2 linked regions of the Homo sapiens genome follow. The protein of the gene in region 1 purifies or fractionates together with the protein of each later gene. This does not show direct contact. Each region holds a gene or a part of one and is shown in the gene's direction. Other genes may lie near its edges.

What was found. The genes of interacting proteins can lie anywhere in the genome.
Region 2: the proteins of XRCC1 (region 1) and ATF1 purify together in Homo sapiens (co-immunoprecipitation; one large-scale study listed by IntAct). This does not show direct contact.

What each region holds. Positions count from the first base shown.
Region 1 is NC_000019.10:43,551,521-43,557,093, reverse strand, and holds part of XRCC1 (DNA repair protein XRCC1), read left to right. Parts: intron 1-2,289; coding exon 2,290-2,448; intron 2,449-3,410; coding exon 3,411-3,485; intron 3,486-3,581; coding exon 3,582-3,693; intron 3,694-4,002; coding exon 4,003-4,112; intron 4,113-4,185; coding exon 4,186-4,297; intron 4,298-4,818; coding exon 4,819-5,077; intron 5,078-5,406; coding exon 5,407-5,523; intron 5,524-5,573. UniProt on the Homo sapiens protein: Scaffold protein involved in DNA single-strand break repair by mediating the assembly of DNA break repair protein complexes. Negatively regulates ADP-ribosyltransferase activity of PARP1 during base-excision repair in order to prevent excessive PARP1 activity.
Region 2 is NC_000012.12:50,765,884-50,770,665, forward strand, and holds part of ATF1 (cyclic AMP-dependent transcription factor ATF-1), read left to right. Parts: intron 1-167; exon of another isoform or gene 168-264; intron 265-805; exon of another isoform or gene 806-1,270; intron 1,271-4,782.

The sequences.
Region 1 (5,573 bases):
CTCGTGATTTGCCTGCTTTGGCCTCCCAAAGTGCTGGGATTACAGGTGTGAGCCACTGTGCCCAGTCTTTTTGTTTCGTTTTTTGTTTTTTGGCAGAGTCTTGCTCCGTCACCCAGGCTGGAATGCAGTGGCACAATCTCGGCTCACCATCACCTCCAACTCCTGGGTTCAAGCGATTCTTGTGCCTCAGCCTCTCGAGTAGCTGGGATTATAGGTGCCTACCACCATGTCCAGCTAATTTTTGTATTTTTAGTAAAGACGGTGTTTCACCATGTTGGCTAGGCTGGTCTTGAACTCCTGGCCTCTTGTCCACCAGGCTTAAGTGCAATGGTGCGATCTCAGCTCACTGCAACCTCCGCCTCCTGGGTTCAAGCAATTCTCGTGCCTCAGCCTCCCGAGTAGCTGGGACAACAGGCGTCTGCCACCATGCCTGGCTTAAATTTTGTATTTTTAGTAGAGATGGGGTTTTACCATGTTGGCCAGGCTGGTATTGAACTCCTAACCTCAAATGATCCGCCTGCCTTGGCCTCCCAAAGTGCTGGGATTACAGGCGTGAGCCACCGCGCCTGGCCTCAGCTTGGGTTTTTCAATGCAGATTGCTAACATGAATTGCTACTCTCAATTCCTTGAGAGAACAGACTTGTGAGGAGTTCTCCCGAGAAGAATTTTCACCTCTTCTTTGGTGTCCCCCCAAGCTAAGGCCAAGACAGACAGGCCTCCCAGGGACTCTTTCCACAGGCTTATTTCCCCTTCATGTAACTAGTGTGGGCGTTGCCTTTGGGGAGTCCTCAGTTCTATGCAGTGTGGTGAGGATCTCTGAGATGCCACTCTCCCTTGCTTGGAGCCTAGGTTTTCTCTCTTGTTCTCTTTCACCACCACGTGCATAACCCTTAAAGATCAAGTTCTAGCTGGGTGTGGTGGCTTACACTTGTACTTCTATAGCTTTGGGAGGCTGAGGTGAGAGGATCATTTGAGGCCAGGAGTTCAGGACCAGCCTGGGCAACATAGCAAGACCATGCCTCTACAAAAAATAAAAAATTAGCCAGGTGTGGTGTCGTGCATCTCTAGACCCAGCTACTCAGAGGCCAAGGTGGGAGAATCACTTGAGACCCAGAGGTCGAGGCTGCAGTGAGCTATGATCGCACCACTGTGCTCCAGCCTGGGTGACAGAGAAAGACCCTGTCTCTTAAAAAAATAATAATAATAAATAAAATCAAGTTATTTGCTATCTGGGATCAGCACCATGACAAACTACCAACATGAGTGCTGCCGGGTCAGTCAGGGTCCTTGCCCGGAGATTAAAACCACACCAGTTATTTTAACAGATAATTTGATAGAAAGAACCAGTAACTAGGTGTTACTAGAAGACTAAGATATGAGGGAGAAGCAACCGCAGGGAGTAGCTACCACTCCCAGGGTTGGGGGAACAAAAGAAAGGAGCAGGAATTATTGAAACGTAGATGTTTGGAAACTGGGAGGTGGGGCTCCAGGAGCTGAAATTCAGATCGTTTGAGGAGGGCTTCCTCCCCCACCGGCTGCTGAGAGGGGCTGAATGAGGCTGTTTCTGGAGGTATTGGGACACTGCAAACTGGATTCATCTGCTGCTGCAGGCAGGAACCACTGCAGCAGCAGAAGCTTAACTGGGGGTGATGCTCACAGGATCTGCAATGCACGAGAAGCTGGTCCTTCCTCCCTCCTGCAGCCTTGCAAACTCTCTCTCTTGCCCCCCCTATTGGCAGAGCCTGGTCACGATCAGCTAGGGAAGCAGAAAGGTGGTTTGCCAAGTGCGGGCCCAGATCACAGAGATGAGTTGTAGAGGGTAGGTTTGAGCTGAGAAACAATCACTTAATACTTAGTGCAGCTCGCCTGACTCTCTGGATTCTGTTTTCTCATTTCCAGCCTCTAGTAATTCCCCTTGCCTTTCCGCTGACTCACCTGTGCATTTCCAAAAGGTGTTTGAATATTGTGCCAGTTTACTGAATATTCTCTGCCGGGAAAGTTCCTTAGGACATGTAGCCCGCTGTATTGCCAGATATGGAAGACTCCATGGGAGAATTTAGATAAGGGTCGCTCACATCTGGAGGATAAAGAGATCCCTCTGGGGCCTGTGTCAGGGCAGGACTGACTCAAGGCCTAGAAACAAAGGGTCTGGAGACATCTAGGCCCAAGCTACATTCTAGTGACTCCCAGTCCCCTGTGTGGGCCCTGTGCCCTCTTCCCCAGCCCCTAGAAGCTCTCATCTAAGCCAACCTGCCCTGGTTCTCATGCACTGTGGCTTCTCCCACCCAGGTCCTTCTGGTCACCTCATCTTTCATGTCCCCTTCCGAGAGCCGCAGTGGCTCAAACCCCAACCGCGTTCGCATGTTTGGGCCTGACAAGCTGGTCCGGGCAGCCGCCGAGAAGCGCTGGGACCGGGTCAAAATTGTTTGCAGCCAGCCCTACAGCAAGGTACCTAGGGTGGGAGCCAGGGTGCAGAGTCCTTGGTCCTGGGCAAGGAGGGAAATAAGGGCCAATATTGAGTCCCATAGGGCTGGGAGGAGTAGACAGCTGGTGTCCCATGGGATTATGGGGAGGCTGGGTCCCTGCGTTCCCTGAAATGGGTTTGGGATCTTTCCTGTAATGAGAAGTTTCATCTCCCGGAGGAATCTAGGAAGGGTGAACTGCAGCATCTCAGAGGGGAATCGGAGGAGGGGAACTGACTTGTTAGAGAGGTGGCCTAGTAGAGTGGGCCTAGTAGTTAACATCAGGAGATCTGGCGTCTGATTACTGAGTTCACGTCCTGGCTATACCACTTTTTAGCTGTGTGATCTTGGGCAAGTGACTTACGCTCTCTGGGCCTCCATTGCCTGATCCTTACAGGGTTGCTGTAGGTTAAGGGATGCTAAAAGCTGTGGTAACAGTGAGACTGGAGTATGTGATGATGCCACACACTAAAGGTGTGCTTCTTGCCCAGGTAACTGTCCTGGGGAGTGTTTAGCCTGTCAGCTGGCTTCTCCTTATGAGGTCGTGCAGGGACCCAGACTTCTCCTATTTTCTGGCTCTGCATCCAGCTGGCAGAGGAGAGAGCCTGGAACACTTCTGTGTTCTGGAAGTGGCACGCAGCACTCCCTCCCATTCCACAGGCAGGAGTTTGTGCATAGGGCAGTGAATTCGCTGGGACACCTAGTAGACTCTGCCAATTGCCCAAAGAGCTAATGCGTGAAAAGGGCTTGGAGCCAGACTCAGAGTTAGGGCTCAGTCATAACAGCTTAATCCTATAATTGTCATCACCATCGCCAGGGCCCCTCCTTCAACATGGGTGTTCATGAGAGGGAAGGAGCCAGGAAGAGGTTTCCCTGAGTGAAAAGGGTCTTGGGCCCTGGCCTCTGTCCTTGGGCCAGACTCCCTGACTCCCACCCCTCCTTTCCCAGGACTCCCCCTTTGGCTTGAGTTTTGTACGGTTTCATAGCCCCCCAGACAAAGATGAGGCAGAGGCCCCGTCCCAGGTAAGCTGTACCTGTCACTCCCCATGGCCTTCTCCCTGCCTCTCCACCCCCACCTGCCAGCAGCCCACCTATAATACTGACCTTGCGGGACCTTAGAAGGTGACAGTGACCAAGCTTGGCCAGTTCCGTGTGAAGGAGGAGGATGAGAGCGCCAACTCTCTGAGGCCGGGGGCTCTCTTCTTCAGCCGGATCAACAAGACATCCCCAGGTGAGCTCGGACAACGTGGGTCCTGAGTGAGTAGGGTTGAGACCTAGACTCGTGGGTCTGAGGGTAGAGGGGGCTGGGGCTCAGATTCCTGGGTCTGAGGGAGGAGGGTAGTGGAGTCCTGGACTCCTGGGTCTCAGGGTGGAGGAAGGTGGGCCTGGCCTCTTGTGTCCTGAGGGTTGAGAGGTCTGGAGGCTGGGACTCCTGGATCACTGGTGGGTTTTGGCAACAATATTCTGTGTCCCATAGATAGGAGTGAAAGGGTCTTGGGGCTCAGCCCTCTCATCCTGGATCCACTTTCTCCCTTCATAGTCACAGCCAGCGACCCAGCAGGACCTAGCTATGCAGCTGCTACCCTCCAGGCTTCTAGTGCTGCCTCCTCAGCCTCTCCAGTCTCCAGGGCCATAGGCAGCACCTCCAAGGTGAAATCATCAGACTTTGGTGGGGTGGAGGAGGAGAGAAGCTGGAGGCCTCAATCCATCCCCATCCCCTCAGCCCCAGGAGTCTCCCAAAGGGAAGAGGAAGTTGGATTTGAACCAAGAAGAAAAGAAGACCCCCAGCAAACCACCAGCCCAGCTGTCGCCATCTGTTCCCAAGAGACCTAAATGTGAGCTAACTAGATCCCTTGTTTCCACAGGGGCCTGTGCTCCTGTGTCCTAGGGGAAGCGGGGCTGGAGCCTGCTGTCCTGAATCTGAGGGAGGAAGGGCTGGGGGCCTGGACCCCTGGGTCTGAGGGAGGAGGGGCTGGGGGCCTGGATTCCTGAATCCGAGGGAGGAGGGGCTGAGGGCCTAAACCCCTGGGTCTGAGGGAGGAGGGGCTGGGAGCCTGGACCCCTGGGTCTGAGAGAGGAGGGGTTGGGGGCCTGGATCCCTGGGTCTGAGGGAGGAGGGGCTGGGGGCCTGGACTCCTGGGCCTGAGGGAGGAGGGGCTGGGGGCCTGGACTCCTGGGTCTGAGGGAGGAGGGGCTGGGGGCCTGGACCCCTGGGTCTGAGGGGGGAGGGGCTGGGGCCTGGATTGCTGGGTCTGAGGGAGGAGGGTCTGGGGCCTGGACTGCTGGGTCTGAGGGAGGAGGGGCTGGGGGTTGACCCCCAGTGGTGCTAACCTAATCTACTCTTTGTCTTCTCCAGTGCCAGCTCCAACTCGTACCCCAGCCACAGCCCCAGTCCCTGCCCGAGCACAGGGGGCAGTGACAGGCAAACCCCGAGGAGAAGGCACCGAGCCCAGACGACCCCGAGCTGGCCCAGAGGAGCTGGGGAAGATCCTTCAGGGTGTGGTAGTGGTGCTGAGTGGCTTCCAGAACCCCTTCCGCTCCGAGCTGCGAGATAAGGCCCTAGAGCTTGGGGCCAAGTATCGGCCAGACTGGACCCGGGACAGCACGCACCTCATGTAGGCTTGCGCCCCCCTCCCTGCGCCGCTGCAGTTTCTCCCCCAGCTCCCTGTGTCTCCTCCACCTTGTGCTTTCTCTGTGTCCACTATGCTGCATGCTTTCTCTCTCTCTCACTTGCTTTCTTTCTCACTGCATTCTGTAGCCTTTGTCTTCTCTCTGATTTTTGCATCTCTCCCTTGGTCTCCAACCTCTTTTTGTTTCTCCCACCTCAATCTCATGATCTGTCTGTCTGTCTGTCTCTCTCTCTCTCTGTCTGTCTCCCCTGTCTCGTTCCCCTTTGCCCCTCAGATCACACCTAACTGGCATCTTCACTTCTGCCCCCCACCAGCTGTGCCTTTGCCAACACCCCCAAGTACAGCCAGGTCCTAGGCCTGGGAGGCCGCATCGTGCGTAAGGAGTGGGTGCTGGACTGTCACCGCATGCGTCGGCGGCTGCCCTCCCAGAGGTAAGGCCTCACACGCCAACCCTGCTCCTTATCCTGTGCTGGGCAATGCC
Region 2 (4,782 bases), on another chromosome or scaffold:
CTATCATTGAGAAATAACAGTAAAAAGGGGTAACCAGCAGCCCTTGGGGCTGCTCTGTCTATGGAGTAGCCGTTCTTTTTATTCCTTTACTTTCTTCATAATGTTACTTTTACATCGCACTGTGGACTTGCCCTGAATTATTTCTTGCGCGAGATCCAAGAACCCTCAGTTGGGGCCTGGATCAGGACGCCTGTCCTGTAACATATTTCTGGCGACCACAAAGGGACTATAGTGCAGAAACCCTGACCCAACGGCTACCTTTGGGTAAGTGTTGGGGTCCTGTAACGTATTTGTGGTGGCCACAGAAGCGACTATACTGCGGAAACCCAGTATTTATGTTTAGGAGTCTCTCCTAAGACAGTGGGTTCGAGGCCCCTCTTAATAAAAGGCAAGGACGCTTAAGCTTGACTGACCTTGGGTTGGAGGCCCTTCTAAGATATAGGGAGTTAGAGTCCCTCTCAGGTAACTCCCTCTCAGCTAAGAACAGGTTTGGCACTATGGGATATTAACTGCTGTTCTCTTTGGATTAATCTGCCTTGCGCTCTTTGCTGATGGCTGTGGGTGACAGAGTTAGGCATGAACAGGATCGTGGGACATGGGGAGCTTTTTCCTCTCTAAAAGGGGAGTCTTTTTTTTTTTTAATTTAAGTTTTAGGGTACATGTGCACATTTTGCAGGTTAGTTACATATGTATACATGTGCCATGCTGGTGCACTTCACCCACTAACTCGTCATCTAGCATTAGGTATATCTCCCAATGCTATCCCTCCCCCCTCCCCCCATAAAAGGGGAATCTTGAGAGCTGATGGGACTGCTGGAAAAGGTCCCTTTGCTGCGTACAAGCGGCTGCCTGAGGTTTTCATTGTCGGCTGCAATGAGTGGGTCTTTTCTCTGGCCTCCCTAAGCTCTTCAGCTTCCCCACCCTGCCACAGGCAATACTTTTCTTATCTACTTTGCGTTTCTTATTTTTTCTATTACTCAGGGCAACCATCTTACCTAGAGGCCACATGTTGAAACTCCAAGTCGGAGGTTGAATTAAAGATGACAGGCCCATCTGGGGGCAAATTTAAGCCTTGCTAGTTTGATATTGGGTGCTAAGCGGAGTGGCTAATGTCTTTGTTTTATCACACGTATTTTGCTCTGGCCAGAATGGAAAAAACATAATTTTCCTTTATGATACGGCTTGGCCCCCAGGGCAATGATGCTGCAAGCTTGAACACTAGGACCACTAAGGGAAAGGGAACCCAGAAGCCTGGGATGCTGGCAAAAGGGTAAGAATGTATTACCAGTCAGATTTCTGGCTTCTCTCTCACTGTACAAATGGTTAAGTGAATGGTTAAAAAAAAAAAAATCAGCCTGGCACGGTGGCTCAGGCCTGTAATCCCAGCACTTTGGGAGGCTGAGGCTGGTGGATCCCCTGAGGTCAGGAGTTTGAGACCAGCCGTGGCCAACATGGTGAAACCCTATCTCTACTAAAAATACAAAAAATTAGCTGGGTGTGGTGGCGTGCGCCTGTAGTCCCAGCTACTTGGGAGGCTGAGGCAGGATAATCACTTGAACCCGGGAGGCGGAGGTTGCAGTGAGCCGAGATCGTGCCACTGCACTCCAGCCTGGCAACAGAGCGAGACTCCATGTCCATCTCAAAAAAAGAAAAAAAAGAACACCTGTAAGCTCGCTTTTCAAGATGACCCAGCAAGCTGGTCAGTAAGATACTTGGCTGCAGGTCCCTGTAACAAATAAAAGACTGGATGAAGTCTCCACCTTGTTTTACGTCCTTGGGAGCTTGACCTTTTAACCATGTGGTGGTACTTTCTTTTGGTCCCCACCTTCAGAGAACAGGAATTTCAGGATTCATGTCATAGTTAGCTCTAAAAATAATATTAAATAGTTAAAAGCCCTTATAAGCTCAAAATTAACTACTCTAGACTCCTTCTGGGAAGGTCAACAGAGACTGCCCTGTGCTGTAGCTCAGTAGCTAAGCTTTTGCACTTTCTTTTTTTTTTTTTTTGAGATGGAGTCTTGCTCTGTCGCCCAGGCTGGAGTGCAGTGGTGCGATCTCAGCTCACTGCAACCTCCGCCTCCCGAGTTCAAGTGATTTGCCTGCGTCATCTTCCCAAGTAGCTGGGATTACAGGTGTGTGCCACTACGCCCAGCTAATTTTTGTATTTTTAGTAGAGATGGGGTTTCATCATATTGGGCAGGCTGGTCTCGAACTCCTGACCTCAGGTGATCCACCTGCCTCAGCCTCCTAAACTGATGGGATTACAGGCATGAGCCACCGCACCCAGCCAGCTTTTGCACTTCCGTGGCAACAGTCCAGGTTCAATTACCCACCTAGGAAGTAAGTCGTTTCTGGTTTAATATCTGCATGACTTTGTCTATTCTCTTCTCCTCTGTGAACTGTCTTATATTTTCCTTTTTCTAAGCACCTGGGAGGTTACCTTTGATAAAATTCAAAAGCCAGAAATACCAGCCGTTTGGCATAAAAACTTCTAAAAGGACTTTATTAAAGAGTGCTATGGTTAAAATAAGTTTAATTAAAAGTGGATATTCAAGCTCTAACAGCCTGGACTCCTTGGGAAAAACAAGAGGCACCAGAGACCCCTTTCGTGGCCCTGTTCTTCCAAGGGCTCCACCCTGAAGCCGGTAATCCAATTAAGAAACTTAAAAACTGGCAAATGAAAAATCTTACAACCACTGTTATCATCATCATCTGTCTTTCTGTGTAGCTATATAGGTGTCGTGTGTAATATTTATATAAAAGAGCTCTGATTAATCAGCTTAAACAAAAATAAACATTTAAATCAAATATTTTGAAAGCAAAATAACTAATGCCTTTTAGTTCATGTAACTTTAGTAATCTTTAGGAAATAAACACATCTTTAAAATTGATAAAAATGTTAATCTTAATTATGCAGGTCAGATATTAAGTTTGTTAAATGATTTGAGGTCATAAACTGTTTCTTTGACTTTTAAAAATTGTTCAATTTACCCTACCTTAAAGCCATTAGATTCTAGATAAGGCCTGGGGACATGTGGAGTTAGCCACGCCCCTAAGCTGTGCTGGAGAGTCAGCTCTTATCTGCACTTCTGCCTGGTGTGTCCTAGGCTAGGCTCCACACCTAGTACATAATTAAAATTGCTTACTAACCAGGGTTTTCACCAAAAGTAAAAGTCGCTAAAAGTTAAAATTGGAACATGTAACTGAGACTATTGAAGAGACAGTTTTACATGTAAGGTGTGTAGTAAGGAAAATAGAATGTACTTTTGGTAAAAGATTATAAGAAGGCATGGAAATGTGGGGTTTTTTGGCTAAAGAGTTAAATAATTATTCTAAGTTGGCCGGGCACAGTGGCTCAAACCTGTAATCCCAGCACTTAGGGAGGTCGAGGCAGATGGATCACCTGAGGTTAGGAGTTTGAGACCAGTCTGGCCAACATGGTGAAACCCCATCTCTATCAAAAAATACAAAAGTTAGCCGGGCATGGTGGCGCACACCTGTAGTCACAGCTACTCGAGGCTGAGGCAGGAGAAGCGCTTGAACCTGGGAGGGGGAGGTTGCAGTGATCTGAGATTGCACCACTGCACTCTATCCAGCCTGGGTGACAGAGCGAGACTCCATCTCAAAAAAAAAAAAAATTCATACAGGAAGCATTATCAAATGTCAAATGGTGTTTTGCTTTCTTTGGATTATATTTACATAACTGTATTATTGGTATATGTTCCAAAGTTATGGGAAACTCCTATAATTCTAATATGATTTAGTGTATGTTATTAATAATTATAATTGTTATGCAAAATATTGTGTGCCACAGAAGTAACCAAATTTCCTTATCATTTCTGGCTTTAATAGTGGCTCTCCTAAAACTTTTTATCATCCACAGACAATTGTTGTCTTGTTTTAATCCTGTTTAGAAGATGATTTATAATCAGCTATAGAACTCTAGCAGGTGTTCTTAAATGCAGGTTTCTAATAACTTTGGAAATTGTAACATTAGAATAGAGGAAACAACTTTCAGAACTCATGAAGAGCTAGAATGTTCATGAATATCAAATGAAACATGAGTTAATTGAATCAACTGAACCAATAGAAAACTGAAGTAATCTTTGATTAAAATGTTGCTGATCCTTTGTTTTGTTTTTCAGAGTCAAGGAAACTTTTCATTTGAGCTATTTACAGTTCATAGCAATTGAGTAAAGTATACTGCTGTGAACGAAATTTGGAACATATTTGTTTCTCTATATCAGATTTCTCCAGAATTTGGAAACTAGTTGTGAGTATTCTTAACTTATGGCAATGTAATTATTTGCATAAGTGCAATAAGAATCTGTTTTCTTTTGTAACAGAATACAATTGGAGAAAGTGGTTATTTTACCAAGGCTTTGACTGAAATGGTGTGCTTTTCTTTAAGGAATCAAACTTGACTTGTAGAGCCAATAAAAGCCCTTTGGGGAACTGGCCTCATACCTTGCCTACACAGTGCCTGTACAGGGTTTCTGACCTATGGTAAGTAAAGAATGTCACTTTCTCACCTGTCCAGGAGCCCCAAGTTATCTTGGGACCTCAAAAGGAGAGAAATTTACCCAAGTTATAGGTATTTAAGGGTACAAACCCATGTCAGGGCTTGGCTTTTAAAAAAGTCTTATCTGAGATTCCTTATGAAACAGAGTTCCATCAAAGCCAATTAAAAAGCCTATGTGAAAAATTATTATTCTTGCTGCACTTTATACAAACAATCAGGCCAAGTATAATAAAGCAAGTCAGTCTTACCATAATTTGTCT